Linked DNA regions of Homo sapiens: regions 2, 3 and 4 are each linked to region 1. The links come from fine-mapping of genetic effects on gene expression. A gene starts in region 1. Each other region holds a variant in brackets. All regions are shown on one strand. Distances are from middle to middle.

Region 1 (8,108 bases):
ATAGGGTTTTGCCATGTTGCCCAGGCTGGACTTGTATTCCTAGGCTTAAACAGTCTTTGTTTCTTGGCTTTTTAAAGTGCTGGGATTAGGTTGGGCACAGTGGCTCGTGCTTGTAATCCCAGCATTTTGGGAGGATGAGACGGTTGGATCACTTGAGGTCAGGCATTTGAAACCAGCCTGGCCAACATGGTGAAACCCCGTCTCTACTAATTATCTAATTCTCTAGAGAATTTTGCAGCCAACTTTATATATGAACAAACTTATGCCTTGATAGGTACAAGATGAAGGGTCAATGTGGGTGAGAAATTCTAATGGGACATTTGTTGCCTCATAATATCAGAAACACAGAATATAGGTCCACTGCTCTTAACCTACTTCAGAAGTTAAAAAGAACTCATTCACAATAAGTTTCAGAGCATTGCCTGGCCATTACTCTTCTAAATAAGCATCATTTGTTAGGTCTTTTTTTTTTTTTTTTTTTCATGGTTCAGGGTAAAAAAATCAGGCATTGGTTAGACATTTATCCTTCATAATAGTCTCTATAGCAGATTCTACTGCAAAGGCTATGGTTACACAATAGACTTTTTTTACTAAAGTTGTGCTAAATAATGGAATTTCTTGAGATTACTTATTGCATAAACAGAAAAGTATCTGTGTAGTTGCTAATATGCATAGTTGCACATGGAGAAATATATTATAGAGATTATACAGAAATATATTACACGTATTACAGAGATTCAGTTACGGGGGTTTAAGAAACAGGCTGCTTGGTTGAAATGAGGAGACCATTTATTTAGCTGATAACTTGGTCTATCTCTCAAAATTGAGAAGATAACCAAAAAGGAGAAATTGTTAAATTATAGCCTGAAGCTCTCTGTTTTCATGTTTAATTTTGGTCAGTAGGTTTTTTGTTTGTTTGTTTTTCTTTTTTTTTTTTTTTTGGTACATACTAAACTGAAACCTAACTGGATATGTAAGTAGATTATAACCCATTCCTGTACCAGCCACTGTGATTTTGCCAATAAAAGGACATCAACTCTTCAAACCATGTTCAAATAAGGCAAATCCCAAGCTGTAATCAATTTGGCTGTTTCTGTACCTCAATTTCATTTTCTGTATGCCACTTTGCTTTTTCTGTTGATCAATTTTTTTACCATGTTGCTGTGCTGGAGTCTCTCTGAGCCTATTCTGGGCCCACAGGCTGCCTGATTTGCAAATCATTCTTTGTTCATTTAGACTCTGTTACATTCAATTTCTCTGAAGGTTTTGTTTTTTTTTTTAGATGTTTACAGATTTTATCTATGATAAAAAATAAGTAATGTGTTGCTGGGCTTTGATTTTCTCAACTCATCCCTCATCTATCTTTTTCCACATATGCTATGTCCTTTTGAAATGCTCCTGCAACTTTTTTCTTTTCTGTTTCTTTTCTTTTCTTTTTTTTTTTTTGGAGAAAGGATCACACTCTCACCACCCAGGCTGAAGTGCAGTGTCGTAACCAATCATGGCTCACTGCAGCCTCGACCTTCCAGGCTCAAGTAATCCTCTTGCCTCTGCCACCTGAGTAGCTGGGACTACAGGATTGCCTCATGCTGGCTAATTTTTATTTTTATTTATTTTTATTTTTTATTTTTTTTGAGACGGAGTCTCGCTCTGTCACCCAGGCTGGAGTGCAGTGGTGGGATCTTGGCTCACTGCAAGCCCCATCTCGTGGGTTCATGCCATTCTCCTGCCTCAGCCTCCCGAGCAGCTGGGACTGTATTTTTAGTAGAGACGGGGTTTCACCGTGTTAGCCAGGATGGTCTCGATCTCCTGACCTCGTGATCTGCCCTCCTCGGCCTCCCAAAGTGCTGGGATTACAGGCATGAGCCACCGCGCCCGGCCATGACTGGCTAATTAAAAAAAAAAAAATTTTCATGCACATAGGATCTTAACTATGTTATTCAGGCTGCACTTGAACTCCTGAGCGCAAGTGATTCTCCCATCTCAGCTTGCCAAAGTGCTAGGATTATAGATGTGAGCTACCGTGTGCTTCTTCAATTTCTTAAGATTATTTCTAGCAATAATAATAAACAGTGCTATATGGGCACAAATCTAAAAGAAATCTGGCTTCTATTTTAGAAGTGTCACTCTCCAGGATTTCAAGGGTCAAATGGAGTTAATTCTGAGTCCCAGCCCAGCCACTTAATAGCTGTGGGTCTTTGCACAAATTTTTTTTTTTTTGATGTGGAAGAGTTATATAAACCACATATGCAAAAAAAGGCAGAATGATACTGATTGCAAAAATGTTAGCAATTTTTCATCCCTCCGCTATCCATGCCCATTGCCAGGTGCATTTACAGCTGTTTCCATTGAGATCCAGTTCTGTTTTCCAAACCCTAGATCTGGCTGGCCTTATTTGCTCAGGGCAGTAAAAACCTGTGAACAGTGCAGTGTGCTAGTTTGAGGCGTAGGCTCAAATGGTTTTGCATGCTTCTGTTTTTCTTTCAGAAGGCTACTATCTCCGCGAAAAAAGCCCATGTTAGCCAGATGGAAGATAAAATAGTATGGGGAGGAGAAGCAAGTTGCCTCTGTTGACAGCCTCAGAAGCAGAAGCTCACCCCCAGAAGCACAGCTGCCTAGTCAACAAGCAGCTGATGATACATGTCTGAAGGAACTCAGCTGAGGTCACAAGAATGGTCTCACTGAGCCCAGCCTAAATGACTAACCATCTCAATTAGAGTGAATTCCACCTGTTTATTCTTAAAGTTTGACTACTAGAAAATTTGGAATTCACATGTGCTCTGTAATCCCAGCACTTTGGGAGGCCGAGGCAGGTGGATCACCTGAGGTCAGGAGTTCGAGATCAGCCTGACCAACATGGCAAAATTCTGTCTCTATTAAATATACAAAAAGTAGCCGGGCGTGGAGGCGGGTGCCTGTAATCCCAATTACTCAGGAGGCTAAGGCAGGAGAATCACTTGAGCCCGAGATGCGGAGTTTGGGGTGAGCCGAAATCGTGCCACTGTGCTTGAGCCTGGGTGAGAGTGAGACTCTGTCTCAAAAAAAAAAAAGAAAAAAATCTCAGGCTGCCTGCTCAAAGGACCAGAAGCCAGTACGGTTATAAAATCTGGAATTTAAAAATAATTGTTATATTCAGATGTGAATAGCTATATGTTATTTATAAATGCATACGACCTTATACACAAGGTTAAATGCAAATGCCCTCTGGGGTGGGCCTGACTCAGCTCAGGGAGGAAGCCCTTCTGGAAAAGGCTGCTGCTTAGGTTTAACTCTGTCTTCCTTCAGCCCAGCACCTGAGCACATCTGTCACTCAGGGCCTGAGGGGGCGGGTTGTTAAACGTTATCCAATCAGGGACGCCGGGCTGGGAACGGTCCAATCAGGCACCCAGCTGGAGCGGACATGACGTCTTCCGGGAGGCGGCGGGGTCTTTGTCTCGCTGCAGCGGGTGCTGCAGGTCTGGCCTTCACTTTTCTGCGTCCTCTTACTCCTAGAGGCCCAGCCTCTGTGGCGCTGTGATCTGGTTATTGGGAGATTCACAGCTAAGACGCCAGGATCCCCCGGAAGCCTAGAAATGGTGAGAGTGCTGGGTCCGACATCCCGAGAGAGGGGGAGGGAGCTGGTTGGAACCGGTCGGAAGTGGCTGTGGCAGTACTCGGGTCTTCCCGCAGTCGGCTGCAAAATCCGCGGCCCCGAGTTCTTGGCACAGCTCGGCCCTCAGTCCCCTTAAGCCATAGCATGGCAGCTGGGCTGACAGCCGGAACCAGGCGTCCTGTCTCCTCCCTGCGCAGTGACTGTGCCCTGGCCTGGAGCCCTCTCTGAGCAGCTCTGCACCCGCAGCGATTGTGCAGAGACGACGGGAGGGTCGTCAGGGGAGAATCCTGACTCGGGGTGCTGGGTTCATGAATGGGAAGAGGTTTCCTCCGCGGGCTTCCCTGTCCCTCTTTTCCCCTATTAAAATTTATGAAAGTCACCGCAAAAAAATTAATTTAATCAAACAGTGATTCAAGAATTGTGGAGCACCCAGCTGTGGTTTGCAGTAGTGGTCCGTGGGAGGGGTTTGAAGGAAACACTTGTATAAGGTGTATGATAAAACCAAATTCAGTAATTGGTTAGTAGAGTTATGTAGTTTCTTAATTTGTACAATGAAGGAGGAAATTTCCTGGTCATGTAATCAGAGGTTAATTGGCAGTTTACAGTTGGTTAAACATGAATTTTATTTTTCACAAGGTAGTAATTTACAAAAAAATGCATTTGAGTTAGATTTTTTTAAAACCAGAAACCCTGGGACTGGAGCGACCTCAGTCTAATTGCCTGCCACTTAATTATTTTCACACTCCACAGGGGACAGATCTTCCCCTTCATTTTTCACATGTGTCCCAAGCAGGGTCTCAAGACTCCTCCCCCTCCCCATTTCCCATTCCTTCAGCCTAACTCTGGCTTGCAGTAAAATACTAAATTTCCAGTTCCTTCTGACATTCCCAAATGCCAACTTCCCCTTCCTAATTCACATTATCAACTATTTGTCCTTTAGTGTACATTTGAAATACTGTATTTTAATTAATCATTTTTTGACAAAGCATGGATGGCATTTTAAAAAAGATTTGTTATCTGTTTGTAAATATTTCCCATGAGAAGAAACCAAAGACTCATCCCCTGATGCTGTATTGTAAAAAATCTCTGTGCCTTTTTTTTTTTTTTTAAATCTTCCCTAGGTACAGAGATCTTATCAGAATATTTTTGGGTCAAGGTTTCCCTTTGGAAACTTTATAAGGTAATGTGTCCTTAGTCACTCTTCAGTTTTTTCCTTGGTCCTGGGTTTCAGTACTTTCTGAGGATAAATCAAAATATCCACTGTGGCTGTGTATGCTAGAATCTCTGGTAAATTTCAGCTCCTGGCCTGGAATGAACTCTGGTTATCTGGGAATGGGAGACAGAGGACAACCTGAGGTTGGAGTGTAGCCTCTCAAGGGAGCAGGTGAATGCCCTGGGGCTGAGAGGAATCTCCTGGTGTACTCTTCCTTTGAAAAGCAAACCCTTTGAGAAGTTAAGATTGTCTTCAAACCAACCCAGTGTCCATTTCCGGAGACATATTGCTGGTCAATCAATCATATGCTGGTATTGAGGGGAGAACACAGAAATAATTTCGGCCCACTGGATTCTCTAAGATTTGTGAAAGAAATGATAGTATCCAAAAAGACAAATCAAACCTTACCCCAGTGAGATGGTTCAAGAACTTGCAAAGTGAAATGTACTTGGGGCAGTCACTGAGGCATAGTGCAGCGTCTTCAGAGAGGGTGGTCTTCAGAGAGGGTGGTCGTTTAGCACTTAAGTGAGCAGGATGGGGTGGGAGAATCTCTCAAGTGATTGGGTGGCTTGACTTGACATGTGAGTGAGATACATCTGTTTTTTAATCAGCACTGCCACTCCCTGGGATTGTCACCCTGAAAAGATTTGTTCACTTACTTCAGTGTTTTAATTGTAACTTGCAGTTTATTAGTAGGACTAAAAGGTAAGAGGATAATTAGAATGGGCATGAAAGAGATGGGTTTTGGAAAAAAATATCTAATCATATATTCTATTTGTTAAGTATTCTCATTTACCTTTTTCTTTCCCAGACTGAGTTTAGGAATTTTCTCAGGTCTGTTTTTTTATGGCTGGGTGATGTCCAAGAGTATTCCAAGGCTTAGCTTTTAGAATGCTACCAAGGAAAAGAATAGGGAAAATACTTCTTCCATTTTGGCTGTGGAAAACGAATACATTTCCGGCGGGGTGCGGTGGCTCATGCCTGAAATCCCAGCACTGTGGGAGGCCAAGGCAGGGAGATCACCTGAGGTCAGGAGTTCTAGACCAGCCTGGCCAACATGGTGAAACCCCATCTCTACTAAAAATACAAAAATTAGAAATTAGCCATGAATGGTGATAGGCACCTGTAATCCCAGCTATTCGGGAGGCTGAGGTGGGAGAATCATTTGAACCCCATAGGCAGAGGTTGCAGTGAGCTGAGATCGTGCGGCTGCACTCCACCTTGGGCGACAGAGCGAGACTCCATCTCAAGAAAAAAGAAAGAAAGAAAATGAATACATTTCCACAAGAAGATGTGGTAGATAATTGGTGAGTTATACAGATTCATGAAAATATCAGTTCCTCCTTTTTCAGGGTACATTTCAGTGAATACCTCTCTTCTGTATCCAGTCATCTTGATTTCTGAGGTTAATGCTAAATTTTTTAAGATGAAACTTGGTCTATCCTAGAAGTGTTCCCATATGACTAATTGTTTACTACATCATTTTTAATGGATATAATAAAATAATTATTTATCGTTTTAAAAGATTACATACTTTTGCATTTGAGATATGTGACGTAAGTGCTTTAAAATTTCCTTCCCTTATATAAACACTGTGTTTGAGTAATTTTGCTGAATTTTTCAGTTTAAAAAACCATTTGAACAACTCCGACATGGAAATTAAAGCTTGCGCCAGTGACTGCAAGCTAAGGCTAATATTGAGCCTACAAAGGGAAGGGAGGTTATTAAAGGCCCAGTTAGTTCTTTCTAGGAAGCCTCCCCTGCGGATGTCGGAGCCTGCTCACCCCAGCCATGGAAGAACCTTTATACTGAGAGAAGCTACAGAGCCCTGGAAAACTGGAGACCCACAGGCAGATGCAGTAAACATTAAGATGGAAGGGGATTGGGAGGGTCATACTCAGGATGAAGTTGTTATTGTTTTGAGGCAGTTTCTAGACTTTGTAAAATAAAACAAAATTAGGTTTATTTTTTAAAAAATTCTAAAATACTGCAACAGAAGGAAGTACCAACTATATAATCTTTAAGGATTGCAAAGTTTAGGCAGATAAAGGCTTTCTTAGGGAGGAGCAAAAAAGATTAGAAGGTGAGAGGGGAATGGCAAATGGAGGGTGTATAAATCAGATTTTATTTTTTATTTTTTAATTAAATTATTTTTTTGAGACAGAGTCTTACTTTGTTGCCCAGGCTGGAGTGCAGTGGCTGGATATCACCTCACTGCAACCTCTGCCTCCTGGGTTCAAGTGACTGTCATGCCACAGCCTCCTGAGAAGCTGGGATTACAGCCGCCCACCACCATGCCGGGCTAATTTTTGTATTTTTACTAGAAATGGGGTTTTGCCATATTGGCCAGGGTGGTCTCAAACTCCTGACCTCAGGTGATCTGCTCTTCTCAGCCTCTCAAAGTGCTGGGATTACAGGCGTGAGCCACCACGCTCAGCCCAAATCAGATTTTAGATTAGAAAATGTTTTACCCTGAAGTCAGCAAGTTTTTAGGAGAAACATAAAATGGGGTTGTATGTTGGCTCAGACTGAGTAGCTCAAAGTTCAGGAGCTGTGGGAAGGAGATAAACTTAACTATATTTTGATTAAGAAGTATTTTATTTGACCGCTGAAGAAAAATTCGGCTATTTTTTTAAATACAAAAAAGAAAATCTTATACATAGTGCTAGCTAGTTATTCCAGTACCATTTTATTAAATAGGGAATTCTGGCCGGGCATGGTGGCTTACGCCTGTAATCCCAGCTCTTTGGGAGGCCAAGGCGGGTGGATCACCTGAGGTCGGGAGTTTGAGACCAGCCTGACCAACATGGAGAAACCCTACAAAAAAAATAGTCGGACATGGTGGCCCATGCCTGTAATCCCAGCTACTCAGGAGGCTGAGACAGGAGAAACGCTTGAACCTGGAGGCGGAGGTTGTGGTGAGCCGAGATTGAGCCATTGCACTCCAGCCTGGGCAACAAGAGTGAAACTCCGACTCAAAAAAAAAAAAAAAAGGAAATTCTTCCTACATTGATCTTGTCAGCTTTTTTGATGATCAGATGGTCAGATGGTTGTAGATGTGTGGCATTATTTCTTGGCTCTATTCTGTTGCATTGTTCTATGAGCCTTTTTTTTTTTTTTTTAATCACTACCATGCTGCTTTGGTTACAGCCTTATAGAATAGTTTCAAGTTGGATAATGTAATGCCCAGCTTTGTTCTTTTTGCTTAGAATTGCCTTGGCTATTCAGGCTCTTTGTTGGTTTCATATGAATTTTAAAATAGTTTTTTTAGTTCTGTTAAGAATGTTTTTGGTAGCTTGATAA
Region 2 (8,108 bases), 30 kb after region 1:
AAGTGTTGAGATTACAGGCGTGAGCCACTGCACCCAGCCCATAATTTTATTTATAATTACTTGAGAAACATTTATAAAATTTTAAAATAATGACTGCATTCTTGTTTTCCACCAACAATCAACATGGAGTTTATTTTTATTGCATTATCAACAGATTTGGTGTTTTTAAAAAAAATTGATGATGGCCATTCTAATTGGTGTGAGGTGATTGTTTTTTTTTGTTTTGTTTTTGGTTTTTTTGTTTTGTTTTGTTTTTTGTTTGTTTGTTTGTTTGTTTGTTTTTGGGACGGAGTCTGGCTCCGTCGCCCAGGCTGGAGTGCAGTGGTGCAATCTCGGCTCGCTGCAACCTCCACCTCCTGGGTTCACGCCATTCTCCTGCCTCAGCCTCCTGAGTAGCTGGGACTACAGGCGCTTGCCACCACGCCCGGCTAATTTTTTGTATTTTTAATAGAGACGGAGTTTCACTGTGTTAGCTAGGATGGTCTTGATCTCGTGACATTGTGATCCACCCACCTCAGCCTCCCAAAGTGCTGGGATTATAGGTGTGAGCCACGGTGCCCAGCCTAGGTAATTGTTTTTTATTGTAATTATTATGCATTTCTCTACAAATATTAATTTAGTGTGTTTTTTCAAATGCTTTTTCCATTTGTGTATCATTTTTAATGAAAATTTACTTCAATTATTTGTTCATTTCTAAATCAAGTTATTCAACTTTATATTCTTTTTGTTTGTTTGTTTTCGAGACACAGTCTCACTTTGTTGCCCAGGCTAGAGTGCAGTGGCATGATCTCAGCTCACTGCAACCTCCACCTCCCGGGTTCAAGTGATTCTCATGCCTCAGCCTCCTGAGTAGCTGGGATTACAGGCAGGTGCCACCACGCCTGGCTAATTTTTGTATTTTTAGTGGAGACAGGGTTTCACCATGTTGGCCAGGCTGGTCTCCAACTACTGACCTCGTGATCCTCCTGCCTTGGCCTCCCAAAGTGTTGGGATTACAGGCATGAGCCATCATGCTGCTCTTTATTTGGTTTTAAGAGTTGTTTATGTATTCTGAATATAACTCCTATCACATGTGATTTGCAAATATTGTCTTTTTTTTTTTTTTTTTTTTTGAGACAGAGTCTGGCTCCGTCACCCAGGCTGGAGTGCAGTGGCGCGATCTCAGCTCACTGCAAGCTCTGCCTCCTGGGTTCACGCCATTCTTCTGTCTCTGCCTCCCGAGTAGCTGGGACCACAGGTGACCACCACCACGCCTGGCTAATTTTTTTGTATTTTTAGTAGAGATGGGGTTTCACCGTGTTAGCCAAGATGGTCTCGATCTCCTGACCTCAAGATCCACCCACCTTGGCCTCCCAAAGTGCTGGGATTACAGGCGTGAGCCACCGTGCCTGGCCAATTTGCAAATATTTTCACCCATTTTCTAGGAGACCTTATCACTCTATTGAATGCTGTATTTAATGTGCAGAGATATTGAAGTCTAGTGTAGTTCAATTTTTCTGTTCTTTTCTTTGTTTCACATGCATTTAATGTTGTGTCTAAGAAAGTAATGCCAAGATCAATGTCATGTTTTTTTCTTACATTCATTTCTAAGAGATTAACAGTGATTTTTTAGGTCTAAACATTTTTTTTAAAAAAATATTTTTTGTATGTGGTTCGAGAAAATGATCCAACTTAATTTATCAGTGTTATCCAATTTTCAACATTACTTTTCCAAGAGACGATCTTTTCTCTATTGTGTGCTCATGGCAACTTTGTGGAAGATCATTTGATCATATATAGAAGGGTTCATTTCTGGGCTGTCTTGTTCTTTCATCTGTTTATCTATTTTTGTGTCAATACCACATTGTTTTTGTTACTGTAGCTTTTATTATGTTTTGAAATCAGAAAGTATAATGCATCTTCTTTTTAATGGATGTTTTGCTATAGTTTTTAATCAAATTTAAAAATTTTAAACTATTTCTGTAAAAAGATTGCGCTATTAGAATTTTGTTAGAGATTATGTTGAATTTGTTTACCGCTGTATGTTGTATTGACATCTTTGAAAAATTAATTTTTTTATTTTTTTTTTTTTTTGAGACAAAGTTTCACTCTTGTTGCCCAGGCTAGAGTGTAATGGCACGATCTTGGCCCACTGCAACCTCCTCCTCCCTGGTTCAAGTGATTCTCCTGCCTCAGCCTCCTGAGTAGCTGAGATTACAGACATGCACCACCACGCCCGTCTAATTTTGTATTTTTAGTAGAGACGGGGTTTCTCCATGTTGGTCAGGCTGGTCTTGAACTCCCGACCTCAGGTGATCCGCCCACCTCGGCCTCCCAAAATGCTGGGATTACAGGCATGAGCCACTGCGCCTGGCTGAAAAATTAAATTTTTTGACCCTTGAGCAAGAATATGTTGAAGAGTATGTTTTATTTTTATATATTTTTAGATTTTCCAGTTCTACTTTTGCTTTTAATTCCTAGGTTTATTCAGTTTTGGTCAGAAAACACACAGTGTATGATTTTGGTTTTAAATGCATTTGTTGCTGTTTTGAGATGGGATCTTACTATGTCACCCAGGCTGGAGTGCAGTGGCATACTTTTGGCTCACTGCAGCCTCAGCCTCCTGGGCTCAAGTGATCCTTCAACCTCAGCCTCCTGAGTAGCTGTGACTACAGACATGCACTACCATGTTCAACTAATTTTTTGATTATTTGTAGGGACAAGACATCACTATGTTGCCCAGGCTGGTCTCAAACTTCTGGCTTCAATGATCCTCCCACCTTGGTCCCCCAAAGTGTTGCGATTATAGGCATGAACCACTGCACCCAGCTGGTATTCTTAAATTTAATGAGGCAGCTGGGCGCAGCAGTTCACACCTATAATCCCAGCACTTTGAGAGGCTGAGGCGGGTGGATCACGAGGTCAGGAGTTTGAGCCCAGCCTGGCCAATATGGTGAAACCTCATCTCTACTAAAAATACAAAAATTAGCTGGGCGTGGTGGCACGCGCCTGTAGTCCCAGCTACTCTGGAGGCTGAGGCAGAAGAATCACTTGAACACCGGAAGCAGAGGTTGCAGTGAGCTGAGATCGTGCCACTGCACTCCAGCCTGGGTGACAGATTGAGACTCCACCTCAAAAAAATAAATAAATAAATTTAATACGGCTTGGTATGATTTATAACAGAATACACCAGATGCAGATAAGAATATTCTGTATTCTCTTGCTTTTGACTGGAAAGTTTGCACATAACTGTTAAGCCTAGTTGGTCTGTAATATGGTTTGGATGTCCATGTTCTCCAAACCTCATGCTGCAATATAATCCTCAGTGTTGGAGGTGGGACCTAGGGAAGTGTTTGGGTCATGGGGGCAAATTTTTCATGAATGGCGTGACACCATCCTCTTGGTAATAAAAAAATTTACACTTAATTCACATGAGAGCTGGTTCATTGAAAGAACCTAGCTTCTTTACCCCACAATTCCTGTCCCTTACCATGTCACATGTCCAGTTACTCTTTGCCTTCCACCATGATTGTAAGCTTCCTGAGGCTCTCACCAGAAGCAGATGCTGACACACACTTCTTGTACAGTCTGCCAAACTGTGAGCAAATAAACCTTTTTTCTTTACAGATTATCTACTCGGGTATTCCTGTGTATGCAAAATAATTAATATAGTCTATAATGTTGTCTAAGTTTTCTGTTTTCTCTTGATTTTTTATCTGAACTTTCTATTTATTATTGAAAATGGGGTCTTGATTTCTGCAATTATTATGTTGCTATGTATTTCTTACTTGACTTTTGTCAATATTTGCTTTCTACATATTGGAGCCCTGATGTTGTACATGCACATACATAGACAAATATAATAGTTATAAATTCTTGATAAATTTACCCATTTTAGTATTACATAATATCAGTTTTTGTCTCTTGCTAGTACTGGACTTAAAGCATATTATGTTTAATATAATTATGACTTCCTCACGCAATTGTGGTTACTATTTGCATAGAATAAAGATATTTTCCATTCTGATACTTTCAGCCTATTTGACTCAACGCTTATGAGTCTCTTTTTTTTTTTTTGAGATACAGTCTTGCTCTGTCACCCAGGCTGGCTCAATGCAACCTCTGTCTCCTGGGTTCAAGCAGTTCTCCTGCCTCAGTTTCTCAAGTAGCTGGGATTATAGGCATGCACCACCTCACCTGGCTAACTTTTGTATTTTAATTTTTTTAGTAGAGATAGGGTTTTACCACTTTGGCCAGGCTGGTTTCAGCCTCCCAAAGTGCTGGAATTTCAAGTGTGAGCCACTGTGCCAGGCCTAAAATGAGTCTCTTGTAGGCCGCATGTTGTATGCTCTTTTTTTTTTTTTTTTTTTTTTTTTTTTTTTTTTTTGAGACGGAGTCTCGCACTGTCGCCCAGGCTGGAGTGCAGTGGCGCGATCTCGGCTCACTGCAAGCTCTGCCTCCCGGGTTCACGCCATTCTTCTGCCTCAGCCTCCCAAGTAGCTGGGACTACAGGCGCCCGCCAACAGGGCCGGCTAATTTTTTGTATTTTTAGTAGAGACGGAGTCTCACCGTGTTAGCCAGGATGGTCTGGATTTCTGACCTCGTGATCTGCCCACCTTGGCCTCCCAAAGTGCTGGGATTACAGGCCTGAGCCACCGCACC[C/T]GGGATTGTATGCTTTTTTCTTAAGCCACTCGGGCATTTTCTTTTTCTTTTTCTTTTTTTTGCTATTTATTTATTAACTTTTTTTTTTTTTTTGAGACAGAGTATTGCTCTGTCGCCAAGCTGGAGTGCAGTGGCACAATCTCGGTTCACTGCAACCTCTGCTTCCCGGGTTCAAGCGATTCCCCTGCCTCAGCCTTCTGAGGAGCTGGGACTACAGGTGCTTGCTGCCATGCCTAGCTAATTTTTGTATTTTCGGTAGAGACAGGGTTTCACTATGTTGGCCAGATGGTCTCGATCTCCTGACCTGGTGATCTGCCCACCTTGGCCTCCCAAAATGTTGGGATTACAGGCATGAGCCCCCGCGCCTGGCCATTATTCATTTAGTTTTAAGATACTGTTACACTTCGTCAATCAGGCTGGTTTGCAGTGGTGTGATCATGGCTCACTGCAGCCTCAAACTCCCAAACTCAGATGATCCTTTTATTTCACCCTGTCAAGTAGCTGTTTACACGTAAGTACCATTACACCCAGCTAGTTATTTATGTATTTTTTGTAGTGATAGGGTTTTGCCATGTTACCCAGGCTTGTCTTGAACTTCTGGGATCAAGTGAATAGCCCCCCTTGGCCTCCCAAAACCCTAGGATTAATTTCTTCCTATTGAATAGTTTAATTTATATTTAAATTGATTGTTTAAAGAAAGGAAATTAGTTACTAGTTTGTTATTGTTTTATGTGTTTCCTGTAGTTTTTTTTCTGTTTTACTGCCTTAATTTTTGTTTATTTTAATTGTGTAGTGACGTGCTTTGATTATTTATTTGTTTATTTATTTATTGAGACAGAGTTTCGCTCTTGTTGCCCAGGCTGGAGTGCAATGGCACGATGTTGTCTCACCACAACCTCTGCCTCCCGGGTTCAAGCGATTCTTCTGCCTTGGCCTCCCAAGTAGCTGGGATTACAGGCATGCACCACCATGCCCGGCTAATTTTTTGTATTTTTAGTAGAGACGGGGTTTCTCCATGTTGGTCAGGCGGGTCTCAAACTCCTGACCTCAGGTGATCTGCCCGCCTCGGCTTCCCAAAGTGCTGAGATTACAGGTGTGAGCCACCCAGCCTGGCCTTAATTTTTTAAATGTGTGTATTTATTAATATATTAATATTTCATTTAACCTTTTTTTAAAATTTTTTTTTAGACAGAGTTTCACTGTCTTCACAGAGTTTCATTGCACCCAAGGCTGGAGTGCAATGGTGTTATCTCGGTTCACTGTAACTTCTGCCTTCCAGGTTCAAACAATTCTTGTGCCTCAGCCTCCCAAGTAGCTGGCATTAAAGGCACACACCATAATTGCCAGCTAATTTTTGTATTTTTAGTATAGACAAGGTTTTGCCATGTTGGCCAGGCTAGTCTCAAACTTCTGGCCTCAAGCAGTCCACCTGCCTCGGCCTCCCAAAGTGCTGGGATTACAGGTGTGAGCCACTGTGCCTGGCCTCATTTTTCATATTCTGTAGAAGAAGTTTAAGGGTTTTATGCACCATCATTATTATAGTAAAGAATATGTGTCTATATACATTTATAATAAAGAGGTTTATATTTATAAATGTTTTTATAATGGTGTCCATCATTTTTCAGCATAAGGGACTCATTTTAGCATTTTTTTTTTTTAATATGCAGTGTCTTACTATGTTGCTCAGGCTGATCTTCAACTCCTGGTTTGAAGTGATCTGACTGCCTTGGCCTCCTAAAGCTGTAGAATTACAGGGATGAGCCACTGTGCTTGGCCACCATGAAACTTTTTTTTTTTTTTAAGACAGAGTCTCACTCTGTCACCCAGGCTCGAGTGCAGTGGCACAATCTCGGTTCACTGCAAGCTCTGCCTCCCGGGTTCACGCCATTCTGCCTCAGCCTCCCGAGTAGCTGGGACTACAGGCACCCGCCACCACGCCTGGCTAATTTTTTGTATTTTTAGTAGAGACAGGGTTTCACCGTGTTAGCCAGGATGGTCTCGATCTCCTGACCTCGTGATCCATCCGCCTCGGCCTCCCAAAGTGCTGGGATTAACCATGTAACATTTTTTTGTAGAAGTGTTCTAGTGGTAATAAACATCCTCACCTTTTATCTTGGAGAGTCTTTATTTTTATCTTGTTTTTGAAGTCAATTGTGAATCAAGTATTATTAGTTAGATTTTTTTTATTACATCAAAATTTGGAAAGTTTTCAGACATTTTTGTCTTCAAGAAAGCTCTGGATTACTTTTTTTTCAATATTCTTCTAAGATTTCTTTCATGAATATATTGATGTACTTGATGGTGTCTAGTAAGTTTTACCTTTCATGTTTTAATTTTCTTCTGCAATTTTATACCTGTGAGTTAGATATTTTAGGGTATGCCACCTCACACCAATCAGTTGTATTTTGATGTTTATATTGTGTATGACAATATTTATCTCTGTACAATTTAAGACAGTGTGGAGCAAAGTCAAATATGAACCATATGTCTACTGCCGATATAATTCTCTGTTTGCCTCTATGAATATTATCCTTGTGTTTTTTATAACTTATTTATTTGTGGTGTTGGTTTATTGTGAATGGTTGTTTAATCTTGTCTAGGTAAAAAGTCAAAAAAATTCTCCTAATGTCAACATTTATTTGTGAACCTATATTATGTTTGTTTGAGAGAAAAAACTTTTGGATTTGAAGATAATTTAAAAACTATCATAATTCTGGTTTTTTTTTAGGTATTGTTTATTTTTACCTGTCAAAAACACATAAAAAATTTACAATCAAGTATTTTTAAATATTCAGTTTAGTCATCTTAATGTTATGCAACATATCCCTAGGATGTTTTTACCTTGCAAAGCTACATCTCACTACACATTAAACAACTACCATTTTTTTCCATTTCATGGCAGTTTTCAAACACTATTTTGTTTCCTGATTCTAAGAGTGTAACTGCTTTATATATCTTAATACAATCTTTTCCATGGCTGGCCCATTTCATTTTGCATGTTATGAAGATTTATGCTTATAGTTGTTACAATATTTCCTGCTTTTTGAAAAATGAGTGATATTTTAAATTATATTTACTGAATGATTTGTTGACCGAAATTTGCATTGCTTTTACCTATTGGCTTTCACTAACAATTCTGCAAAAATTATGAGTATAAAAATGACTCTTCATATGACTGTATATTTGAAAGTATATATATGTTGCATTCTATTTTATTAGTCTACTTTTTAACATTTGTACTCATACCAAATTGTTTTAATTCTGTAGCTTTGTAATATGTTTTGAAATCAGAAACTGTTCTGCCTCCGACATTGTTCCTTTTTTTTTTTGAAGTTTGTTCAGTACTTTATTGTCTCTCGACATTTTATATACCTTTGGTGTTGCTGTTTCTATTTCTTGAAAACTGCAATGAGAAATTTGGAAAACATTGCATTAAATCTGTATATTACATTGAGCAGTATGGATAT
Region 3 (8,108 bases), 150 kb before region 1:
TCTTAGCCCAACACCCAGGGGCTGGGAGGCTTCTGCTTGGGCCCTGTCCACAGGGGGCCTTTTGACATATTTCTGCATTTATCACCTAGGAGATGTAACTCTTCATTCTGCCTGAACCCTGGCCACGAAAAAAAAATCGTGACAGATTTTTTAGGCCAGTAACCAGGTGATGTGAATTTCCTCTCCTACCTAGGCACTGCCCATAGGGGGCACTGTGACATATCACTGGGCTCCACACCCAAGGTATGTGATTCTTCTGCCTGTTCCCTGCCCACATAAGGCATTATAACATGTTATTTAGTCCAAAACCCAGGTAATGTAACTCTCCTGCTTAGACCCTGACTACAGGGGGCACTGTGACATATCTCTATGCACATCTCGCAGGTGATATGACACTCTCGTTTTGCCTGATCACTGCTCATGTGGGGGATTGTAAAATACCACTGGGCCAAGCACCAAAGTGACATTGCTCTTTTCTCTTTGGCTTGGCCTTGCCCTCAGAAGGCATTGTGACATATTGCTGGACCCAGCACCAACGTGATGTGAGTCTCTTTCCTGAACTCTGTCCACAGGGGACATTGTGACATATCTCTGGGCCTGTCAACTACTTGATGTAACTCTCTACTCTTACCTGGGCATTGCCTGTAGAAGAGATTGTGACAATTCCCTCCTGAAAGCAGAACACGGGCAGCCGAGTTACATAACCTGGACGCATGGCCTAGTGATAGTTCCCAATCTTCCTTGTGGGCAGGGTGCAGGTAGGAAAGTCATATCTTCTAAGTGATAGATGCAGATAAGTATCAAAAGGTCCCCACATAGGCAGGATCCATGCACAAGCCTCCCATCTCCCAGTGGTGGGGCCCAGCAATTTGTTACGATACCCAAAATATGTGAGGCCCAGGCAAAAGGAGAGAGTCACATCACCTAGGTGCTGTGTTCAGTGATATGTCACAATCCTTCTATTTGGCAGGGCTCTGGTGGAATAAGAGAGTCACATCACATAGGTAATAAAGAAAAAGATATTTTAAAGTACCCTGTGGGCAAAACCCAGGCAGGAGAGTCACATCATGTAGGTATTGGACTCAGCCATATGTCATAACACACAATGAATACAGGACCCAGGCAAAGGAGGAGTCATATTATTTAGGTGCTGAGCCCACAGGTATATATCAGAATCTCACTTTTTGGCAAAGCTCAGATGTGAAAAGAGCATCATATCCAATAGTTGAGGGGCCTAGAGATATGTCAAAATGCCCTGGGTGGGCAGGGACCATGTGGAGGATTAAGGTAAAAGAGGAAAGTTACATCAAAAGTTTATAGACTAAAAAATACGTTGCAGTGCTCTCTGTGGGCAGGGACCAGGCAGAAGAATTACATCACTTGTGTGCTGAGGTCAGCAATAAGTCACTTTTTTTTTTTTCTGAGGGGGTTTGTCCAGAAGGAGAGGACCCAGAGACAGAGATATGTCAGAATCTTTCAAAAGCAAAGTGCAAGTAAGAATAGAGAGTCACATCAAATAGTTGATAAGTTTGAGATATGTCACAATGTGTCTCCAGGCAAAAGAGCCACATGATTTTTGTGCTAGGCCCAGCAATAGGGCTGAATGCCTTTCCAGGTCAGGGCCAAAGCGAAACGGTAACATCCTGTTAGTGTTGGGTCCAGTGGTATGTCACAATTTTCCCTGAAGACAGAACCTAAAAACAATAGAAGAGCCACAATCCCCTCTGTTAGCATGAATCAGGAAGGGGAAGAGATTTATGTAACCTGGTTGATGGGTACACACATATATCACAATGTCCTCTGTAAGAAGTTCCCAGGCAGGGAAGTTTCATTACCTAAGTGTCAGGAATCAGGAAGGAGAAGAGATTTATGTAACCTGGTTGATAGGTACACAAATATGTCACAATGTTTCCCGTAAGCAGTGCCCAGGCAGGAGAGTTACATTACCTAAGTGTTAGACTCAGCAGTATGTCCCATTGGCCCATGTGGGCAAGGCACAGGCAGAAGAGCCACAAATCCTTGACACAGGATGCAGCAATATATCATAATGCTCCCTGTATACAACACCAAGGCAGAAGAAAAGACTCACATAACTTGGGTGCAAGACCCAGCAGTATGTCATAATTCTTCATGTGGGCAATGACAAGGCTTGAGAGTAGAGTCACACCACCAAGGTGCAGGGTCGAGCAATATGTCACAATTTTATCTGTGAGTTCACTCCAGGCAGCAAAGTCGAACCACTTAGGTGCTGGGTAAAGGTGTATGTCACAATCACACTTGCAGGAAGGTCCAGGAATAAGATCACAATCCCACACATGTTCTAGTTCTAGGTGGGAGTGTCAACATATCTTGTATGTTGGGTCAATCTCTCCCAAGAGGATTGACCGTACACCCATATCACACCCTGCTGACAGTAAAGATTGTTATCATTTCCCGTGAACACAGCCCACTGTTGAGATTCTGAAACTCACACCTGGAGGCAGTCAAAAGTTGGAAAATTGACTCTCATATGTGGATCAGGTCCACAAGTGTTCTGGTGACTCTCAGGCTAAGATTCAGCAAACCTGTGAGGCTGGGACTCTACTAAGGTGAGATAGTCTGCAGGAAAGATTGAGGCTCCCATGCACTGATCCAGTCCACTGCTGAGATGGTGACTCATGTACTTAAACCCAACATACAAGAGGTGCTGACTTTCATACCTAGAACCCGGACATGTGTGGGCTTGTTAATACCATCCCTGCACCTTCCTACAGGTGTGATAGTTAAATAAGTCTCTGCCCAGCTCTTAAGTGATTTGACTCTCTTGCCTGGGCCCGGCCCACAGTTCAAAATGTGCCATGTTGCTGGACCTGGCCCCTAGGTAATGTGATCTAGTCTCCTGTCTCAGCACTGCCCACAGTGGGCATTGTGACATATCACCGGGCCTTGCACCCAGGTGATGTGAGTCTTCTCTTCTGCTTTGGCACTGCCCAAAGTAGACATTGTTACATATCACCAGGCCTTGCACTCAGGTAATGTAACTGTCTTGTCATGGCCCTGCCTGCAGGAGGCTCCATGATGTCACTGTCTTCTTCTACCTGGTCTTTGCTCACAGCGGGTATTGTGACATATTGCTATGCCCAGAATCCAGCTGATGTGACTCTCCTCTTTTTTCTAGGTTCTGCCCACAAGGGAAATGGTGACATATCACTGTGCCCAGCACCAAGGTGACGTTACTCTTTTGCCTTGGCCCTGCCCTCAGAAGACATTGTGACAAATAGCTGAGCCCAGAACCAAGGTGAACCTGCCTGAAACCTCCCCACAGGGTCATTGTGACCTATCTCTGGGCCAACCAACTATTTAATGTGTCTCTCCTCTCTTGCCTGGGACTTGCCCATAGGAAAGATTGTGACATATCTCTGGGCATAGGACCTAGGTGATATGACTTGCTGTGCTTGTCTGGGCAATTTCCACAGAAGAGAGAATGACTTATTCCTGGGCTCAGCATACAGGTGATGTGATTCTTCTGCCTGATCACTGCCCACAGGAGTTATTGTGACATGTCTCTGGGCCAATTACCTAGATAATGAGACTCTTCTCTTCTTTCTGGGACCTGTCCATGGCAGGGATTGTGACATATGGCTTGGCCCAACACCTACCTTTTTTTTTTCTCCTTTTTTTTGAGATGGAATTTTGTTCTTGTTTTCCAGCACGTAGTGCAATGGTGTCATCTTGGCTCACCGCAACCTCCGCCTCCAGGGTTCAAGCGATTCTCCTGCCTCAGCCTCCCAAGTAGCTGGGATTACAGGCACCCACCACCACACCCAGCTAATTTTGTATTTTTAGTATGGATGGGGTTTCTTTGCCCCCCTTATTTAGGCGATGTGAATTTTTTTCTTGGGGCCTACCCTCAAAGGGTATTGTGACAAATTGCCAAACTCAGCACCTAGTTTATGTGACTCTTTTCTATTGCTTGAGCTATGCCCTGAAAGGGACTGTGATGTACCACTGGGCCTAGCACCTAGGTGACATGACTTGCATCTTCTGCCTGGGTACTCTATATATTGTGTATTGTGACATATGGCTTGGTCCATTGAGACTCTTCTGCATGGGCTCTGGCCACAGGGGTATTATGAAACATTTTTTTATTCATCACCTAGGTGATGTGACTCTCCTCTTCTTCCTGGGCCTCACATATCAGTGGACCAAGCACCTCTGTGATTTGACTCTCTTTTTTTCTCAAAATCCACATACTTTGGATATTGTGACATATTGCTGGGTCCAAAACTTTCAGAAAGGGAAGTTCCTGCCTGGGCACTGCCTTGTGATAAATATCTGCATTGTCAC[G/A]CATAGGGCCTTGTGATATATATCTGCGTCTGTCACCAAGGAGATGTAACTCCCCTCTTCAGCCTGCATTCTGTCCACATGGAAGATTGTGACATATTCCTCTCCCAGCCCCCGGTTGATGTGACTCTCCTGCTCAATCCTTACCAACAAATGAGATTGTGACATATATCTTGGCCTAACTTCTATGTGTGATGATGACTCTCATTCCTCAAATTAGCTAGTAAAAATAAATACTCTCTCTTATAGCTAGGCTGAGGGAAACAGGTAAGATGCTGGGTCTCCTCTTTGTACAAAGATCATAAAGAATTACCACTTTCTCCCACATTGTATAAAGCCCTTGGGTGATGCAGAGAGCGTAAATTCAGGGGAGATTTTTCTTTTCATAGACACACCCAGCCAACTATTAGCACTGTCACCTTGACACATGAAGAGAGCCCAATGGTGACATCCTCAATCCAACTTATGGATGCAGTCCACGGTTAGATTTGTGATTGCATATGTGAACATCTGAACATCTGGCCACAGTTGGAATGTTTACTCATTTCTTTTTCTCTTTTTTTTTTTTTTGAGACGAAGTCTCGCTCTTGTCACCCCGGCTGGAGTGCAATGGCGCAATCTTGGCTCACTGCACCCTTCACCTCCTGGGTTCAAGCAATTTTCCTGCCTCAGTCTCCCCAGTAGCTGGGATTACAGCCACCTGCCCCCACATCTGGCTAATTTTTGTATTTTTAGTAGAAATGGTGTTTCACCATGTTAGCCAGGCTGGTCTCGAACTCCTGACCTCAGGCAATCCACTTGCCTCAGCCTCCCAAAGTGCTGGCATTACAGGTGTGAGCCACCACACCCAGCCCATGGTTACTCATTTCTAAACCGAGCTTATAGGCAGGTGAAGACCCTCCTATCTAAAACCAGTCATTTTAAGAGATATTCAGTCTCATATCTGTGCCTACAACCACAGGTAAGATAGTGGTTATAAGCCCAAATACAGTTATAAACCTAGAGCATTGTGACATATCTCTGGATCCAAGTACAAAGGTTTCAGAGCAGATTGCAACTCTCATGCATACTGTGTGATGTCCTTAGTAAAACAGAGAGGGTCCCTACAGTATCCAGCACACAAGTAAAATTGTGACACTTGTATGCACACATGGCCAACAATAAAGACTGTCATTCAACCACATAAACACAGCCAATGTTGGGGTCCTGAATCTCACAACCAGAGGCAGTCAAAAGTTGGAAAATTGACTCCCATACATGGATCTGGTCCACAGGTGGGTTTGTGACTCTCAGGCCAAGATTCAGCAAACCTGTGAGGCTGTGACTCTATGAAGAATATACAGTGGACTTGAGGGACTGTGGCTCCCAAGCATGGATCCAGTCACCTGTTGAAATTGTGACTCATGTACTTGGACCTTACATACAGGAGGTATCGACTCTAATACCTAGGACCGGGACATGTACATAATTGTTCATTTTATCCCTGGACCTTTATGCAGGTGTGATTGTAAAATATTTCTTTGCCCAATACCTGAGTGATTTGACTTTCCTAGCTGGGCACAACAGGTGGAATTGCGACATATTGCTTAACTCAGAACCTACGTGATGTGTCATTATTCTCCTGCCTTGGTATTGCCCACAGGGGCATTTTGCTATATCTCTGGGCTTTGCACCAAGGTTATGTGGGCCTCCCCTCCTGCTTTGGCACTGCTCACAGGGGTATTGTGACATGTTGCTGGGTTCTGCATCTTGGTACTAGATGGCTTCTGCCTGTGCCCTGTCCCCAGGAATAATTGTAAAATATTGGCTGGGTGCAGTGGCTCATGCCTGTAATCCCAGCACTTTGGGAGGCCAAGGTGGGTGGATCAAAAGGTCAGGAGTTTGAGACCAGCCTTGCCAACATGGTGAAACTCCGTCTCTACTAAAAATACAAAAATTAACTGGGCATGGTGGCACGCACCTGTAATCCCAGCTACTCAAGAGGCTGAGGAAGGAGAATTGCTTGAACCCAGGAGGCGGAGGTTGCAGTGAGTTGAGATCATGCCACCTCACTCCAGCCTGGGCAACAGAGCAAGGCTCTGTCTCAAAAAAAAAAAATCGTGACATATTGCTACGTTCAACACCCAAATGATGTAACTTTCCTGCCTCAGTCCTGCTTAATGGGGGCATCATGTTATATACCTCTGCACCTGTCACTCAGGCAACATGACTCTCTTCCCCTGCCTGGTCCTTACAGAGGAGATTGTGACCTACTGCTGGGCCCAGCACCTAGCTGATGTGACTCTTCTCTTTTTCCTAGGTTCTACCAACAGGGAAGATTGTGACATATCACTGGGCCTAACACCAAGGTGTAGTTACACTTTTGCCTTGGCCCAGAACTCTGAAGTTCACTGTGACGTACTGCTGGGCCCAGCACCAAGGTGATGTGAGTCTCCTGCCTGGAGCCTGCACACAGGGGCTATTGTGACATATCTCTGGGCCCATTTACTATTTGTTGTTACTCTCTTCTCTTACCTTGGCTTTGCCTGTAGGAGAGGCAAATCCCAGCACTTTGGGAGACCAAGGCGGGACATAACTCTGGGCCCAGCACCTAGGTGATGTGACTCCCTTTTCTGCCTGGATGGTGCTCACAGAAGAGAAAGTGACTTATTTCTGGGCCCAGCAGAGAGGTGATGTGATTCTTCTGCCTGGTCCCTGCCCACAAAACTCATTGTGACTTAACTCTGGGCCCATCACCTAAATGACGTGACTCTCCTCTTCTTCCTGTGTCCTGTACATGGTAAGTATTGTGACATTTCACCAGGCCTTGCACTTACTAATGATGTGATTTTTCTCTCATGCCTTGGGCCTGCCCACTGAGATAACTGACATAGCTAAACTCAGCCTTTATGTTATGTAATTTTCCTCTTTTTCTGAGTTCTACCAACAGGGAACATTGTAACATATCTCTGGGTCCATCACCTGGATAATGTGACTCTTCTTGGGACCTATTCACAGTGAAAATTGTGACACATCTCTTGGGTAAGCAACTACATGATATGACATTTCTGTTATGCCTGGGCTCTGCCAACTGGGGTGATTGTGACATATAGCTGGGCCCAGCCCCTAGGTTATGTGACTCTCCCTTTGTTTCTGAGCCCTCCCCAAAGGGGAAATTGTGACATATATCTGGGCCTGTCACTCAGGTAATGTGACTCTCCTGCATGAGCCCTCTCCTCAAAGGGTATTGTGACATGTTGCTGAACCCAGAACCTGTGTGAATTGACTCTCTTCTACTGATTGGGCTCTGACCAAGAAAGAATTGTGACGTATCATTAGGCACACCACCAAGGTAATATGACTCTTCTATTGTTTGGGCTTTGTCCAATGAGGGATTTTGACATATTACTGGGCTCAGATCCAGGTGATGTGACTCTCTTTTACTGCCTGAACCTTGCATACATTGCATATTGTGATATAGGACTGAGGCCAACACCTAGGTTTTGTGACTTTTCTGCATGGGGCCTACACACAGGGGCATTCTGTCATATATTTTTGTTCATCACCTAGAAGATGTGACTCTTCTCTTTTACCTGGGCATGGCCAAAAGGGGATTGTGACTTTATTAGTCCATTCTCATACTGCTATAAAGAACTGCCCAAAACTAGGTAATTTATAAAGGAAAGAGGTTGAATTGACTCACATTTCAGCATGACTGGAGAGGCCTCAGGAAATTTACAATTATGGTGGAAGGCAAAGGAAAAGCAAGGCACCTTCTTTACAAGTTGGCAGGAAGGAGAAATTCT
Region 4 (8,108 bases), 47 kb after region 1:
CTGGCGGTAGGTGGAGGGAATGCCATCAATCCTTATAACAGAGATTGAGGAGGGGCGGCTGGGTCTGCTAAAAGATGGCAAAACAGAGTAGGTAGCCCTTGTGTCTAGTAAAAAGGAAATGGACTTACCCGCTACCTGAAGCATTACCCTGGGCTCGGCAAGGGTGAGAGGGGTTCCCAAGTCTGGGCCTCTTCAGTCGTCATCCAGTTGGAGGAGCTGGAGGGCACCTTCGCCATCCGAGGAGGGGTCGCCATGTGGAGACACAGCGGCCGCTCCGAGGCCGGGGCAGTCTGACTTCCAGTGCCCCATTTGTTGGCAGTTAGGGCACGGGCGTGTTGGCGGCTTGGGGTTTGGGCACTGTTTTGCCCAATGACCTGGATTGCCACACTTGAAACAGTTGCAAGGCAGGCAGGACGGTTGCTGTTGGCTAGGGCACCGGCTGGCCGTGTCCTGAGTTGCCGCACTTGAAGCAGGTGCCAGACGGGGCCTGGGAGATCGTACCTCTACCTCTCCTGCTGGGGCTCTTAGGGAATGCCGGTTGCAGGGCAGCTGCCAGGGCTTGGGTTTGGAGCTGAACTTTTTGTTTCAGTCTTGCCTGTCGTTGTACCTCAGCCGCCTCCTCTCGGGAATTAAAAACTTTGAACGCCAGCTTTACTAAGTCCTGGATAGGGGTTTGGGGGCCCTCCGCTGCCTCATCCAGGATTAGCGGATATCACTGCCCGCAGCGAATGTGTTAGGAGTTGTAGATGTAGTGGACTGGTATGGCACTACAGGGAGGTGGAAATAAGAATGGGGGTAAGATGGAAGCCAAGGAGTTAGGTGGGCAGGGTTAAAAGAACAAATGGGAACTAACAGGAATTAAAATGGCGGCCAAATGGCGGCAGAAGAACTAAAATGGTGGCAGAGAAAAAAGGAAGTAAGATGGCGGCGGTGAGGAAGCAGGTAGTAAGATGGCAGTGGTGCAGAAGGAGATGGCGGCGGAGAGACTAAGATGGGGGCCGTGGACAAGATTAATGGCAAGAGAGGCTGGTCAGACTTCAAGGGGAAGGCTAGCCAGAGGGACTTGTGCCAGCGAAAACACTTGGCGGCAGCGGTCTGACGAGAGCGGAGGTCCCAGAACCTTTGAACAAATTTGATTTTTGACTATTTGCCTCGCCTCTGACAAAAATTGGTAAGGTCGTTTAGGATATTGAAGTTGAGTGTGCCTTCGGGGGGCCAGCGAGATTGGTTGTCTAAGGTATATTGCGGCCAGGCAACTGTGCAGAAGAAAATTAGTTGCTTTCGTTTTAAATCTTGGTCGAGTTGTAAAGTTGGGAGGTTGCGCAGGAGGCACCCTAAGGGGGTGTTTTGCGTGATTTTGGACTGGGTGGACCCCATCCTCTTCCCTTTATGGCAGCCGTCTGAGGGACAGCAGAAGCGTCCTTCTGGGGTCACTCAGACCACGCAGCTCCTGGAGCCTCGGATCGGCTACTTCAGACACAGACGTCTCTGAGTCGTCAATGCCGATTTGGACTTCCCCTGGGGAAGTAAACTTGGGTCTCCTGGTGACCCGGACTGGCCTTCCCTTGAGGAAGGAAACTCTCCCTGGGTGTGCGCATGACTCTCGGCCAGGGAGGAATGGACAAAAGGAAAAAGGAGGGGTACTCACCCAGCGTCTGCCGAATTGGACTGGAGTAGCTGCAGCAGCTGTGACCTGGCGGCAAGTAACCGGACGAAATGGACCGATGGCCGTGGAGGAGAAGCCTGACCTGACTGAGGGAGAGGCCTGATCCGACCAGGAGGGGAGTCTTCCCGAGCCTCTGGGGGGCTTAGGAGGTGTCCCCTCCCGTGTTTCGGCACCAATGAAAGGCAATGGAAGGGCACCATGGATCAATAAGGCGGAGAGGCGAGACAAAGAGGGCAAAAATCTTCTTTATTGAGCTCTCAGGTGAGGTTCACTGGTCCGCAGCGGGAGGGCCAGGGAAGTCGCACTGTGCCAAAGGTGCAGCGCACTTTTATGGATGCTGGGTGAGGAGTGGGCGGGGTAGGGGCGGGGTCGGTTGAGTTTCGCGCTTCTGAGTGTGACACGTCCTAGTGGGCATGCGCGTTAGTCGGGGTGGTGGGAACAGGAAAGGTGAACCTGGAAATGCTGAGTCGGGGTATCTGAGGTGGCGATCGCCATCTTGGAGTCTTCACCAGAGTCCAATCACAGTTTTAAAGATTTAGATTATTATAAACTTAATTTTTTAATTAAAAATTTTAACATAAGACCACTGTGCATTCAATGAAGTATTATTATGCCACTAACTTTTACCTATCCTACCTTACTCAAGGGTGTAGGTCAAAGATGGTAACAATAGACTATTTGATAACATAATGGACTAACATCTCCAATAATTTATTTTGCCAGTGGCTTCAAACTGCAAATAAATTAATGAATATCGTTCCCGTTGGTTAAATTTTTTATTTATAATTTAAACTTATTTTTCTCAATTTTTGTGTGTACATAGTATCTGTTTATATTTATGTCATTATATGGCATTTTTTGATACAGTCATATAATTTATGTATTAATCAGATAAGGGCAAATGAAGTTTCCATCAACTCTAGCATTTATCTTTTGGATTACTAACCCATTCTACACTTTTACTTACTTTAAAATGTACAATTAAATGCTACTGACTACAGGGTCATTTTTATGAGTGAAATAAAAATTATTTACAAGTATAAATAAAACCCTGAGTCTTAAAATTCTGAGTTCTGCTTAAACATTTAAAAAAATTTGTTATGTATTTTTCTTTGAACATTTGGTCTCTCTCTGCCTGCAAACATACAGAATTTTAGTTTTAATTTACATAAAATTAGCTATGCACGTATGTTACTCTAAATAAACCTTAGGTGCAAGAAAATTATAGAGTATATATGAGGATGAGTCTGTACCTATTTTCAGAAGAATAGAGCAATATTGTAACAAAACAAATATTTTAATAAGGTGACTTATTAACTGAAACTGAAAACCTCAAAAATGCTGAAAGCAAATCTATACTCTGCTTTTTTTTTAAATTTATTACTGTAAAATCTTCTGACTTAGGGTTCAGAATCTCCCCATGAAAAATTTCTGTTTTTCCTTGCCTAGTACTCATGCTAGACCTATAATTTTCTTGTCTCTTACGATTTTTTCTTTTATAGTTTATGAGGTATTCATTACGTGAGCTGGTCATGACTAATAACGATTTTTATAAAATTTAATGCACACTGAACAATTTTTAGATGTATTTCCAAAATTGTGTATTTTATTAGGACATTTGATTTTTTCTTTTAATTGGAGAATTCTACATAAGCCTGTATTTTTTAACTTTTTTTGTTCTCATTATAATTGACATAAATATATTTATTGAGGCAATTTGTTCAGATAAGAACTCGGGATGCTTCATAAGTCATGATGTTTTTTAATATATAAATGTGGCGAACAAACATGACAGTGCTTGCTGTGTAGCAGATGCTCCATGATAAGCCATAAATATTCCTGCTAGAGTTAGTTTGTAAGTTCAAGTCGGAGAGGGAAAATATCAATAGTGAAGAAATAAGATTGATTCTTCCCGTGGAGATAACAATTGTTTTCATGCTGCGAAGCTAAATATTGCTGAACCTAAAGAGAAACTCTGTTTCTTTTATTTCCTAATTATCTTTAGTTTTGTTTGTCTTATTATGTGTCTTCTGTGTATTCATCACAGCCCCTCTCCCTTTTTTCTACGTGATTGCTACAGTTTTCTCATTGTCTTCATGCCATGTCATTTTACATGGTACTTTGTAGGTTTTGATGAGAAAGTTGGTATTTTTAATGCACTCAAAAATTGGTTTTAGTTAGAGAGTTTGCTTATCAATATAACTTTCAGATCAGTTAATTAAGATAAAACGCATACACTGTCCATAGATCAGAGGATTAAATAACTTAGCATTGTTTTTCTGTTTGTAAAC[G/A]GAAAATCTTATTAAATTCTTACACAGAGTGTGACACATTTAATATTTGCTAGAAAATGCATCTTAGAAATTAAATTATTAAGAGTTAGTGGTGAGGAATTTTAAATTTAATGTTCTATGATATAGCACAACACAGATTTATTTATTTATTTATGAAATGGAATCTTGCTCTGTCACCCAGGCTGGAGTGCAGTGGCGTGATCTTGGCTCACTGCAACCTCCGCCTCTTGGGTGCAAGCAATGCTCCTGCCTCAGCCTCCCTAGTAGCTGGGATTGCAGGTGCCTGCCACTACACCCAGCTAATTTTTGTATTTTTAGTACAGACGTGGTTTCACCATGTTGGCCAGGCTGGTCTCGAACTCCTGACCTCGTGATCTGCCCTCCTCTGCCTCCCAAAGTGCTGGGATTATAGGCGTGAGCCACTGTGCCCTGCTGAATCTTTTATTTTTAAGTGTGAATGTTAAAGGTTGCAAAATAATAAAATGACCTCTGTGGATTTGAAATTTGGAATAATATTTCTTGTCCATATTGATATTACAACTCAGAGGAATTTCACCCTGTTATTTTATGTGTCTTTTTAGTGAGTGAAGGTCAGTGTACAGTTTATATTCTTAGTCACCTGTCGTCAACTTCTTGGTCATTTTCTCTGGAAAAATTCTGGAGATGATGGCAACTTTTAGATTATTTTGTGTTACTTTTTATGCAAACTTGTTCATTGTGTTCCCAGAGTGGCCAGTCATAAGTCTGTAAGCAACACCTTCCCTTTTAGTGTCTTCCATGTCATCACCATCTGTAATAAATAAGTAAATGTGTATTTATTTTGTAAAACATAATACTTGGAAGTATATATACATTGTCAAATGCTTAATTCTAGGTAGTTACCTCACATAGTTAACATTTTTGTGGCAAGAGCATGTGACATTGTCAGCATTTTTCAAAACTACAAATACATTATTTTGATCTATAGTCACTATGCTGTACAAAACAATCTCTTGAACTTATTCTATTAACTATAATTATGTATTTTTTGATCAACATCTTTTCAAACCCTCCTTTCTCCTAAATAACTTGTGTCTGGTGGCCACCACTTTACTTCAATAAGATTAAGTTTTTTAGAATCCCTTTGTAAGTGAAATCATGAAATAATAATCTTTGTGCCTGGCTCATTTCGACAAATATAATGTTTTCCTCCAGGTTAATTCGTGTGATTGAAAATAATAAAATTTCCTTCTTTAAAGATGAATAGTATTCCATTGTGTGTATATACCACATTGTCTTTATTTACTCATTAAATGTTGAAACCACTGATTTTATATTTTGGTAATTGTGAAGAGTGTTGTAAAAAACAGGCACATGTTTCTTCATTCTGATTTCGTTTGTTTTGGATGTATAACCAATAATAAAATTGCTGTATTTGGTGGTTTAATTTTAAATTTTTTTGAGAAATCCTTATTTTGTTTTTTGTAATGACTGTCCTCATTCACATTCAAACCATCAGTGTGCAAGCATTGCCATTTTTTCACACCTTGACTAACACATTTTTAAAATAGGAGTAATTCTAACAGAAATAAGTTGATATAGTTTTTTTTGCTTTCCTTTCCCTGATAATAACTGATATTGAGCATTTTTATGTGTCTCTTGACCATATGTATGTCTTGAAAAATATTTAAGCCTTTCATTCTTTTTAATAGTCTTTTGTCATATAGTCATTTGAGTTTCTTATATATTTTTGATATTAACCCCTTGTCACATGAATGATTTGCAAATATTTTCTCCATTTTTTTAGTTGTCTCATTTTGTTGATTGTATCAGATTCCATGCAGCAGCTTTTTAATTTGAACTAATCTGACTTACCTATTTCTCTTTTGATTCCCTGGAATTTTGAGGTTAGTTTATTTTTTTTATTTTTTTGTTTTTTGAGATGGAGTTTCGCTGTCACCAGGCTGGAGTGCAGTGGTGTGACCTTGGCTCACTGCGTCCTTCACCTCCCCAGTCCAAGAGATCTCCTGCCTCAGCCTCCTGAGTAGCTGGGACTACTGGTGTGCGCCACCATGCCCAGCTAATTTTTGTATTTTTAGTAGACACAGGGTTTCACCATGTTGGCCAGGCTGGTCTCAAATCTCTTGACTTTGTGATCTGCCCGCCTTGACCTCCCAAAGTGCTGGGATTACAGGCCTGAGCCACTGCGCTGGCCAAGGTTAAGTTTTTAAAAAGTCACTGCAGCCTAGAACTCCTGGGCTTAAGATGTCCTCCCTCTTCACTCTCCCAACTAGCTGGGACCACAGGCCCAAGCCTGTGTGCCCAACCTGTTGTTATTATTTTTAATGTTTGCTAGTTCCAGGGGTGCACAGAGATTTAAAGGGCACATTTTCTCAGGGTTTGGGCATAACATGAGCACTGGGAATGGAAAAGGTCCTACAGTGCCCAGAAGAATAGAGTCTGGATGTGGGTCTTACCACTCCCTTTCTCAATTTGATTCATTCTTCTTTGAGGAGACAGTGATAGCAAAAGGGAACTTGGGCTTGGGGTTGGAGGGTCTGATTTTAGGTCTGGAGTCGATCTCTGAAAGGCTATGTGAGATTGGCACTGTCTACAACCTCTCTTCTGCATCCGCAAAATGAGAAAGGTGAGGCTGGATGAGCCCTGAGGTCCCTTTCACTCTTTTTAATTTTTTATTTTTTTTTAATTTCCATAGGTTTCGAGGAACAGGTGGTATTCAGTTACATGAGTAAGTTTTATGTGTTTTTTTGTTTTGTTTTGTTTTGTTTTGTTTTTATGAGACAGAGTCTTGCTGTGTCACCCAGGCTGGAGTACACTGGCACAATCTCTGCTCACTGCAACCTCTGCCTCCCGGGTTCAAGTGATTCTCCTGCCTCAGCTTCCTGAGTAGCTGAGATTACAGGTGCAAGCCACCTCGCTCAGCTAATTTTTGTATTTTTAGAAGAGACGGGGTTTCACCATGTTGGTCAGGCTGGTCTCGAACCCCTGACCTCGTGATCTGCCCGCCTCGGCCTCCCAAAGTGTTGGGATTACAGGCGTGAGCCACCGTGCCTGGCTGAGTAAATTTGTTAGTGGTGATTTGTGAGATTTTGGTGCACCCATCACCTGAGCAGTGTATAATTAACCCAATTTGTAGTCTTTTATCTCTCACCTCCTTCCCAACACTCCTCTCTGAGTCTCCACCATCCACTGTGTCATTTTTATGCCTTTGCATCCTCATAACTTAGCTCCAACTTATGAGTGAGAACATACAATGTTTGGTTTTCCATTCCTGAGTTACTTCACTTAGAATAATAATCTTCAGTCCTATCCAGGCTGCTGTGAATTACATTAATTCTTTCCTTTTTATAGGTAAGTAGTATTCCATCATATATATACTACAGTTTATTTGCTCGTTGATTGATGGGCATTTAGGTTTGTTTCACATTTTTGCAATTGCAAATCATTCTGCTATAAACATACATGTGCAAGTATCTTTTTTGTATAATAACTTTTTGCTCCGGGTAGACACCCAATAGTGGGATTGTTGGATCAAATGGTAGTTCTACCTTTAGTTCTTTAAGGAATCTCCACACTCTTTTTCATAGTGGTTGTGCTAGTTTACATTCCCACCAGCAGTGTAGAAGTGTTCCCTTTTCACTGCATCCACACCAACATTTATTATTTTTTGATTATTTGATTATGGCAATTCTTGTGGGAGTAAGGTAGTATCACATTGTAGTTGGGATTTGCATTTCCCTGATTATTAGTGATGTTGAGCATTTTTTCATATGTTTGCTGGCCATTTTTATATCTTCTTTTGAGAATTGTCTTTTCGTGTTTTTAGCACACTTTTCGGTGAGATTGTTTTTTCCATGCTAATTTGTTTGAGTTCATTGTAGATTCTGGATCTTAGTCCTTTGTCAGATGTATAAATTTTGAAAATTTCCTCCCACTCTGGGTTTTTGTTTATAGTTTTAGGTCTTAGATCTTAGATTTAAGTCTTAGATCCATCTTGAGTTGATTTTTGTATAAGATGAGAGATGAGGATCCAGTTTTATTCTTCTACATGTGGCTTGCCAATTATCCCAGCACCATTTGTTGAATAGGTTGTCCTTTTCCCACTTTATGTTTTTGTTTGCTTTGTCAAAGATCAGTTGGCTGTAAGTATT

Evidence for each region.
Region 2: its variant is fine-mapped to the expression of ZNF138 in whole blood (TOPMed, PIP 0.93).
Region 3: its variant is fine-mapped to the expression of ZNF138 in whole blood (TOPMed, PIP above 0.99).
Region 4: its variant is fine-mapped to the expression of ZNF138 in lung (TOPMed, PIP above 0.99).

What each region holds. Positions count from the first base shown.
Region 1 is chr7:64,790,997-64,799,104 of GRCh38, forward strand. It overlaps ZNF138 (zinc finger protein 138), which reads left to right and starts at 3,432. Exons shown (of 4, transcript NM_001271639.2): 1 at 3,432-3,575. The coding sequence starts at 3,573. RefSeq lists enhancers at 3,158-3,207, 3,448-3,687, 3,472-4,032.
Region 2 is chr7:64,820,825-64,828,932 of GRCh38, forward strand. The region is part of intron 3 of ZNF138 (zinc finger protein 138); the gene reads left to right. Among named protein-coding and RNA genes, the nearest start is that of ZNF138, 30 kb to the left of the region's middle. The variant C/T (reference allele first, on the strand shown) is at 4,642.
Region 3 is chr7:64,636,330-64,644,437 of GRCh38, forward strand. It overlaps LOC124901656 (a long non-coding RNA gene), which reads left to right. Exons shown (of 7, transcript XR_007060350.1): 4 at 3,158-3,277; 5 at 6,623-7,102; 6 at 7,241-7,344. Among named protein-coding and RNA genes, the nearest start is that of ZNF107, 26 kb to the right of the region's middle. The variant G/A (reference allele first, on the strand shown) is at 4,327.
Region 4 is chr7:64,837,971-64,846,078 of GRCh38, forward strand. It overlaps a transcript of ZNF138 not described here. Among named protein-coding and RNA genes, the nearest start is that of ZNF138, 48 kb to the left of the region's middle. The variant G/A (reference allele first, on the strand shown) is at 3,958.